Linked DNA regions of Homo sapiens. The protein of the gene in region 1 interacts with the protein of each later gene in a pairwise test. Each region holds a gene or a part of one and is shown on either strand. Other genes may lie near its edges.

Region 1 (3,656 bases):
AGGCCAGTGGGGAAGAGCTGCAGAGGTGCCAGGAGGGAGGCTGGCTTCAGGGGGCCGGGCAGGCACCTGTTGGTCAGGTACTTCAGACCCATGGCTAGAAATCATCCACTACTCCTCTGTGAGCCCCGCCCCTAAACTCCTCCCTGTAGGCTGGGTGGTCCCCACTTCTGGGGCACCTTCTCTGGACTGAGATCCCCTGGGGTCACCTGGTTCTTCCTACCCAGTCTTGAGGACACTGAGGGGTGGAGCAGCCAAGGCTGGCCCACTAGGGCCTGAACCACGGGTCTCCCCCTCCAAATGCTATCTTCTAATATTGTTGGGGAGATGGGTGTACCCCTCAAAAATGGATATCCAGGGGCCCTCAAAAAGAAAAAGACGTCAACCCGGGGCAAACCAGAAGGATGGGGGAAACAGGGACGGCTGGCGGCCTGTATGTAGCCTCAAGAGTCTCCTTGCAGGAGGCTGGGCCCAGAAGTGCTCGCCGGTCCAGAGGGGAGGCAGCTGTGGGTTATGGGGAGGGCTCTTGGGATGGGGCTATGGAGGTGATGTGGCCCCAGATCTCTGCAGAAGGGTGATTAGGAGAGAAGAAACAGACATGACCCAGACCAGTGGGAAAGAGGGGCCAGCCGAGCTGCCAGCCCAGGGCCTGCTGGGCCCAGAGACATACTTTGTTTGACACACACAATATATTGTTTAAACCTGAATAAACTTCCAACATATCAAGATCAGATTTCATGTAAAAATTCAGACTTCTGCCTTCTCTAGGTCCCTATTCCTGCTTGGCAGCCGAGCAGAGGTACCCTCTTAGGACTTAGGATAGGCACGCATGTGTCACCCGGCCTGCTCACGGCTCTCAGGCCCTGCCTGGCCCATGTGCATCTGATGTCGACACCTGTGTCCCCCAGATCCTACCCTCTCATTTTATGGATGGGAAGACAGAGGCTAGGAAAATCAGAGGCAGCCCCGATCGGAAGCAGGTCTCCTGACTCCTAGGCAGGGCTGCTTCCCAGCCTCAAACCCTGTAAGCCTCACCTTCCTGTCTAGGCCTCTGCTTTCTCATCTGTGAAAGGGGATAATAAACACCATTTACCCAGAGTGGTTTGGGGGGGGGGTGGTCCGTGACCCCCAGGAAGGCTGCTCTGCACCACAGTGAGGGTCTGCCATCTCCAGTGACCATGCTACCCCCGAGGGCTGTAGCCTCCTTGCTGAGGGAGGCAGCACCACTGTGAGCGCCGCAGACAGGCAGGCAGAAGAGGGAGCGAGGGTAGTGTGGGCTCCCAGAGGCAGAGCGGGTCCCAGGCTAGCGAAAGGCCACCCATCCAGGGGCTCAGTGGGGAAAGGGGACGAGTGTGGGCTGGTGCGCGGTGGCTGTACTCACCCAGGTGAAGATGGAGAAAAAGGAGAAGGCGATGGCGGCCCGGGCTGCGTCCGTCCCTTCGTTCAGTGGGTTGTCCTTGGGCTTGGAGACCTGCCACTGGTTGGCCAGGTAGCAGAATCCCACGAACCAGAGGAAAGCCCAGAAGGCTGGGGGGTCCCAGGACCGGGCAGAATAGGCAGTGCCACACATGGGGGAGAGGGTGAGTGGGGAGAAAATGGGGAAGCCGAGGAACAGAGGGACATTCAAGAGTGCATCTCCCATGCTCCCCCACCCCCAAAGGGACAGGCAAAGGGGGTAGGGGAAGAGAGAGGGGAGCCAAGAGAAGATGCAGGCGAGAAGAGGGAAGCCAGCCAGATGCAGGGGGGAGGAGGCCACAGACAGGGCAGGGTCAGGGCCAGTCAGAGGAGAGCCACGGGCAGTGAGAGGGGAGGATGGAGGGAGAGACAGAGAAAGAAGGTAATCAACTCAGGCCGCATTTCTGCAGCCTCTGCCAAACCCCCATGTCCAGCCACACCGCTGACGTGGGCCCCCCCGGTCCACCCCTGATGCCTGCAACTCTGCAGGCAGGAAGACCCCAACCCTCAGGCTGCCAGACAAATGAGGTATGGGAAGGAGGACGAGGCTGGGGCAAGGATGGCAGCTTGGCTGGGTGGGTCTGGGCTTCGACTTCTAACGTGCTGCGACCCCACAGAGCCCCAGGTTTAGCGAGGGGCCCACTGAGAGCCGAGCCTGGGGGCGTCAGCAGTGGGAGCCTCATAGCCACGCAATCTCCTGTGAGTGCCAAGGTCTCCCCAGAGAAGCCCAGACCTGCTCAGGACAAGGCGTGCATCTGCCAAGCAGGTGGGGTGCCCACCTGGGGCCCAGCCCACCTCCCAGAGGCACTGCCAGGGAACCCTGAGGCTCTGTGGAAGTTTGAGAACCATTCATTTAGTTCTAGTTCCTTCTAAAACTAGACCTCATGACCTGCCTTCAGCCTGGCTTATCCTGAGAGCTCCAGGCTTAGAACTAGGGGTTGGTCCCAGTCCGGGGACCCAAGCCTCAGAACAGCGAGGCTGAAGCCTCGGGTTCGGACCCCTGACTGAGAGCATCCACCAATCAGATTCCTGGAAGTCACGGAGCAGAGGTCAGGGTGCCTCTGCCAAAGGCTGCTTCTGAAGGGCAAAGGGCAGCAGGTCAGGTTGGCTCCACAGGTCCAGGCCCTGGTCCTGCCAAGGTCTGGCTGGGAGGCGTGGGGAGGCTGAGGCTCCAGGGCCCCTGCTGTGCACTGGGCACCCAGTCACCGCCTTGCTTAGTCCTCATGAGGCTGCCCCAGGGAGGTGGCACAGAAGAGGCCACTGAAACACGGGCCAACCCATGGGGGCTGGCACATGCCCAGTGCCATCCATGGGTCCCTTAGACTAGAAGGAACTAGAATCCCATCCACGCTCCCCTGCCTGTGGGCAGCATGGGTTATTTTGGGGTCCCAGGCCCTGTCCTGGTCCCATCCTTCCTGCTGCCAGCCATGTGACCCTGAGTCCATCCCTTCACCCGCCTGCACCTCATTTCCTCATCTGAAACATGGGAAGAAGGGTGGCAGCCGCCTCCTATGGCCGGGACAGCCCTCTGTAGACTCTGTGCAGGGGGTACCTGCTGGGTGGGGCTCACCCGAGACACCGATGTCGGACAGGACGGCTTTCTTGCGGTCCTTGACGCTGCTGATCTGCGGGAAGTACACGTCCAGGGCCAGGTACAGCAGGCAGGTGAGGAAGGCGAGCACGCCCACGGCCACGCCATAGCTGCAGGCGTTGGGGTTGCGGTTGTAGATGCAGAACTCCTCCCCCTCGGAGGCGCTGTTGAGGTAGCCCTCGTTCACGATGGAGCCGAACACCACTATGGAGAACAGCTGTCGGGGGTGGGGCCACACCTTAGACCTGGGCAGACCCCTGCCTCACACCACCCAGGGGACGGGGAGGCTGCCACCCTCGCCTGCTGCCTGGCCCTCCGTGAGCTACAAGACCCGGGTTAAGCAGGCATTTCAGAGGGGGATCCCCAGAGAGGGAGGGTAACTTATGTGGGTCACATAGCACCAGGTGGGGGTCAATCACTTCCTTCCTCAGCCACAGGCACTGAGGACTCTCTGACCATAGATGTGGCCCCTTCCAACACCCCTCAGCCAGGTCCTAAAGGTCTTCCTGGGCCCTGACACCAAGATATCCTGGGACTGGACCGACTCTCAAAGAACAAGGAGCCACAGGCCCTCCTGGGCTGTGGACCTGCCCAGCCCCCACCCCCAGGCTGA
Region 2 (3,656 bases), on another chromosome or scaffold:
GCCTTAATCATCTGTCTAGTGCTGTCAGCGGGGTTTTGAAGTCCTCCCTTATTATTGTATAGCTGTCTATCTCTTTTATTAGGTTGAGTAGTATTTGTTTTATAAATCTGAGTTGTCCATTTTGGGATGCATATATATTTAAGACAGCTATATCTTCTCCTTGTATTGAACCCTTTATTATTATATAATACATTCTTTGTCTTTTTACTGTTGTTGATTTAAAATCTGCTTTATCTGATGTAAATATAGCTACTACTGCTCATTTTTGTTTTGTGTTTGCACAGTGTATCTTTTTCCACTCCATTGAGTTTGTGGGTGTTTTTACCAAAGGGTGTCACTTGTGGGCAGAAAACGATCAGGTTTTGTTTTTTAATCCAATTTGCCTGTCTATATGTTTAAGTGGAGGATTTAGGCCATTTATGTTCAGGGTTAATATTGATATATGAGGGTTTGTTTCCGTCATAATATTGTTACCTAGTTGCTTTGTTGTCTCAATTTACACTACGATTTTTATATCTACATTTATAAATGAAATTAGCCTGTAATTTTTCTTTTCCATACTGTCCTTGTCAGGTGTTAGTATCAAGGGTATGCTGCCTCAAAAAATGAGTTGGGAAGTGTACTGAGTTGAATAGTGTTTACCCAGAAGCTGTGAGTGTGACATTTGGAAAGAAGGTCTTCGCAGATGTTATCAAATTAAGATGAGGTCATGCTGAGTTAGGGTGGGCCTATAGAAGATCAGGAAAATTTAGACATGGAGGAAAGAAAGCCATGTGATTAAAGTGAGACTGGAGTGATGCATCCATAGGCCAAGGATTGCTAGAAACCATAAGAAGCTAGAAGAGGCAAGGAAGGATTCTTCCCTAAAGAAAACAGAAGAAGAATGACCCTGCTGATATCTTGATTACAAACTTCTATCCTCCAGAGCAATGAGAGAATAGATTTCTGTTGTTTTAAGCCACTTGGTTTGTGGCAATTTGTTATGGTGCTCTAAGAAACTAATAGAGAAAGTGGCCCCACTTTTTTGATTCTCTGAAATGTTTATGTAAAATTGGAATATTTTCCTTGACTTTACAGTAGACCTTGCCAGTGGAGTCTTCAGGGTCAAGTATTTACTTGGTGAGATTTCTGATTACTGATTGAATTTCTTTAATGATTACAGAACTATTTGGGTTTTCTATTTCTTCTTGAGTTAATTTTGAGAAGCTATTTTTTTTACATGTTCATAATATTTTCATTATCTTTCTTTTTTCACTGTTACAATAACTTTAATTTATCTTGTATTTTACAGAAGTCTATGAACGATTTTAAAAAAGCACCTCTTTACCCCATATCATGTTTCTCTGACAGTTGTTAAAGTAGTCTATACATATGTCAACAGCTTGAGCATCAGCATCTTGCAAGGATTTCACACCAACCAGCCACTAGCCAAAGAACTTGGCAGCTTTTTTATCTTGCTTTTAATACAATGGTATATCCACTCTGATGGCAAACTGGTTTAGCCACATATCCACAACACGCTTTGAAAAATCAGTGATTAGCAAATTAGTTAGCTTTGGCACAGGGCTGTGCTCGCTTGCCCATGACAGTCTGGAAGCCAGTTTTGATACTGGCAACAGAACATCTAGAATGACAAGTTTCACACTGTAGGAAATAAGAGTTGCATGTCCTTCTGCAGGATTGTGTCCAGTGATCAGCATGTGTGACAAGTGACATACTCCTTGATAAATCTTAAGACATTTTCTATCTGTTTTTGTTGGAATCTTCCTTTACAAGTTGGTTATTACCATCTATAGAACCACTTGTACCCAATTCAACCAACAAAAATGCAAGTGTGCTGACAATATAATAGTTTACAGATATCTGTAAAGTTGACAGAAGAAGTTTTCTTGGTTCCTACTCAGACGACCTGTGGAGGTTGCATAACGAATTTCTTTTTCTCCCCAGCAACCATATCTGGATTCTTTTCCCTCATGATGTTGAACACACAATTCAGCAGCTCCTCTTATGTGTAGTCTCCTTCTGAGCCTGCCCAAGCAGGGCCTGTCTGATTACTGAATGAGATACCATCATCTTTTTTGCTATCTTCATCTTCTAGAGCTTCATCTTTCTCTAGTAGTTCATCCTCATCTGGGAACTTGACATTCTTCTTTTTCTTCTTTTTATTCCAAGCATAATGTCAAGGTCATCCTCTGGTTCAGCTGGTTCTTGAACATCACTTTCAATCTTAAGATCCTTTACAACTTCTTCAGCTTCATCAATATCAAATATCTTTTTTGTTTTTTTTTCTTTTTCTTTTGATTAAAGAAGTTCAAGTCATCTAGATCATCAGAAGCATCGTTTTTCCTACTGTCCTCATTGTCAGCTTCCAAATCTTTGTCCTCAGTTGGCTCTGGCTCCAGACTTTTGTTTCTGAGGGCTGCGTTTCCTGTTTGAGTATCCCCTTCCTCATCTAACATAAAAGGCTTCTTCTTCTTCTTTTCTTCTTGCTCACAGTAGGATCAAAAATCATCTCATCTCCAGATATGGATGCGATTCCAGTGGGCTCCGCATGGATGGGAAGTCAGACAGGTCAGCCCCCAGGCCCCGTGGCAGCGCTGCTCCTGCTGATACCTCTCCCACCACCGCACTAGGCTCTTGCATCAGCCAAAGGGCCATTATCTTTCTTAAAGGCTACAGTATCTGCAATGATATCCCTTTCATCATTCTTTATATGCATTGCTTGGTGCCTTCTCTTCTCCTTCAATCTCTCCAGAGTTTGTCAATTGTATTAGTCTCAAAAAACTAACATTGTTGTTCCTCTTGATTCAAATGTTTTCTATTTCATTAATTTCTCCTCTTTATTATTTCCTTTCTTCTACTTGATTAGGGTGTATTTTACGGTTAGTTTGTCAGTTCCTTTACATAAATACTTAACTCATTATATTTCAGCCATTTTTCTTTTCTAATATATATTTTTAAAGCTATAAATTTTCTGATAAGTTTTACTTTAGCTGCATCCCTCAAGTTTTATATTATGTTTTCATTGCCATTCAGTTCCAAATTTTTTCTAAATTCCATTATTTCTGTTTTTACTCAGAGGATATTGGAAATTAACTTCCAAACATATGAGAATTACTAGTTATATTTTTGTTATTGATTTCTAGCTTAATTGCATTGTTGTCAGATAATGTATTCTTAATGAAATTTATTTAGATAAGATTTTATAATTCAGTATCTGGTCAATTTTTGTAAATGTTCCAGATGTATTTCAGAAGAATGTATATTCTCCCATTTTGGGGTGCATTGTTCTATGTAAATGTATTAAGTCAAGTTTCATAATCCCTAATACTTTTTTAGAAGAATAATTTTTTCTGCCTCCAAACTCTAATTACATTCTCTCATCTACCTTCTTTCTTACAAAGAAATATCAAGTTCTTTATCATTCTGAGCACTCTTCCCATGCATCATCGTCATCATCTTGGGTGACAAACCTTAAATTTCCAAACAGTGAGTAAGCCATTTAATAACTGGTTAAGGTTTGGGACATTATATTAATCTCTCCCAGGCTCAAAATCTCTTCTTACCTGTAAATGAGGATTGTAGGACTAACTGAGAATTAACATATAACATGTTTAAAAATACTATTATTTTTATTATTATTATTTAATAAATAA

What was found. Proteins that work in one complex are often made in the same cells at the same time.
Region 2: the proteins of SYNGR1 (region 1) and EHHADH interact in binary tests that used the Homo sapiens proteins (3 or more experiments, as listed by UniProt).

Annotation. Positions count from the first base shown.
Region 1 is NC_000022.11:39,373,920-39,377,575, reverse strand, and holds part of SYNGR1 (synaptogyrin-1), read right to left. Parts: intron 3,261-3,656; coding exon 3,023-3,260; intron 1,525-3,022; coding exon 1,379-1,524; intron 1-1,378. UniProt on the Homo sapiens protein: May play a role in regulated exocytosis. Modulates the localization of synaptophysin/SYP into synaptic-like microvesicles and may therefore play a role in synaptic-like microvesicle formation and/or maturation.
Region 2 is NC_000003.12:185,243,915-185,247,570, forward strand, and holds part of EHHADH (peroxisomal bifunctional enzyme), read right to left. Parts: intron 1-3,656. UniProt on the Homo sapiens protein: Peroxisomal trifunctional enzyme possessing 2-enoyl-CoA hydratase, 3-hydroxyacyl-CoA dehydrogenase, and delta 3, delta 2-enoyl-CoA isomerase activities. Catalyzes two of the four reactions of the long chain fatty acids peroxisomal beta-oxidation pathway.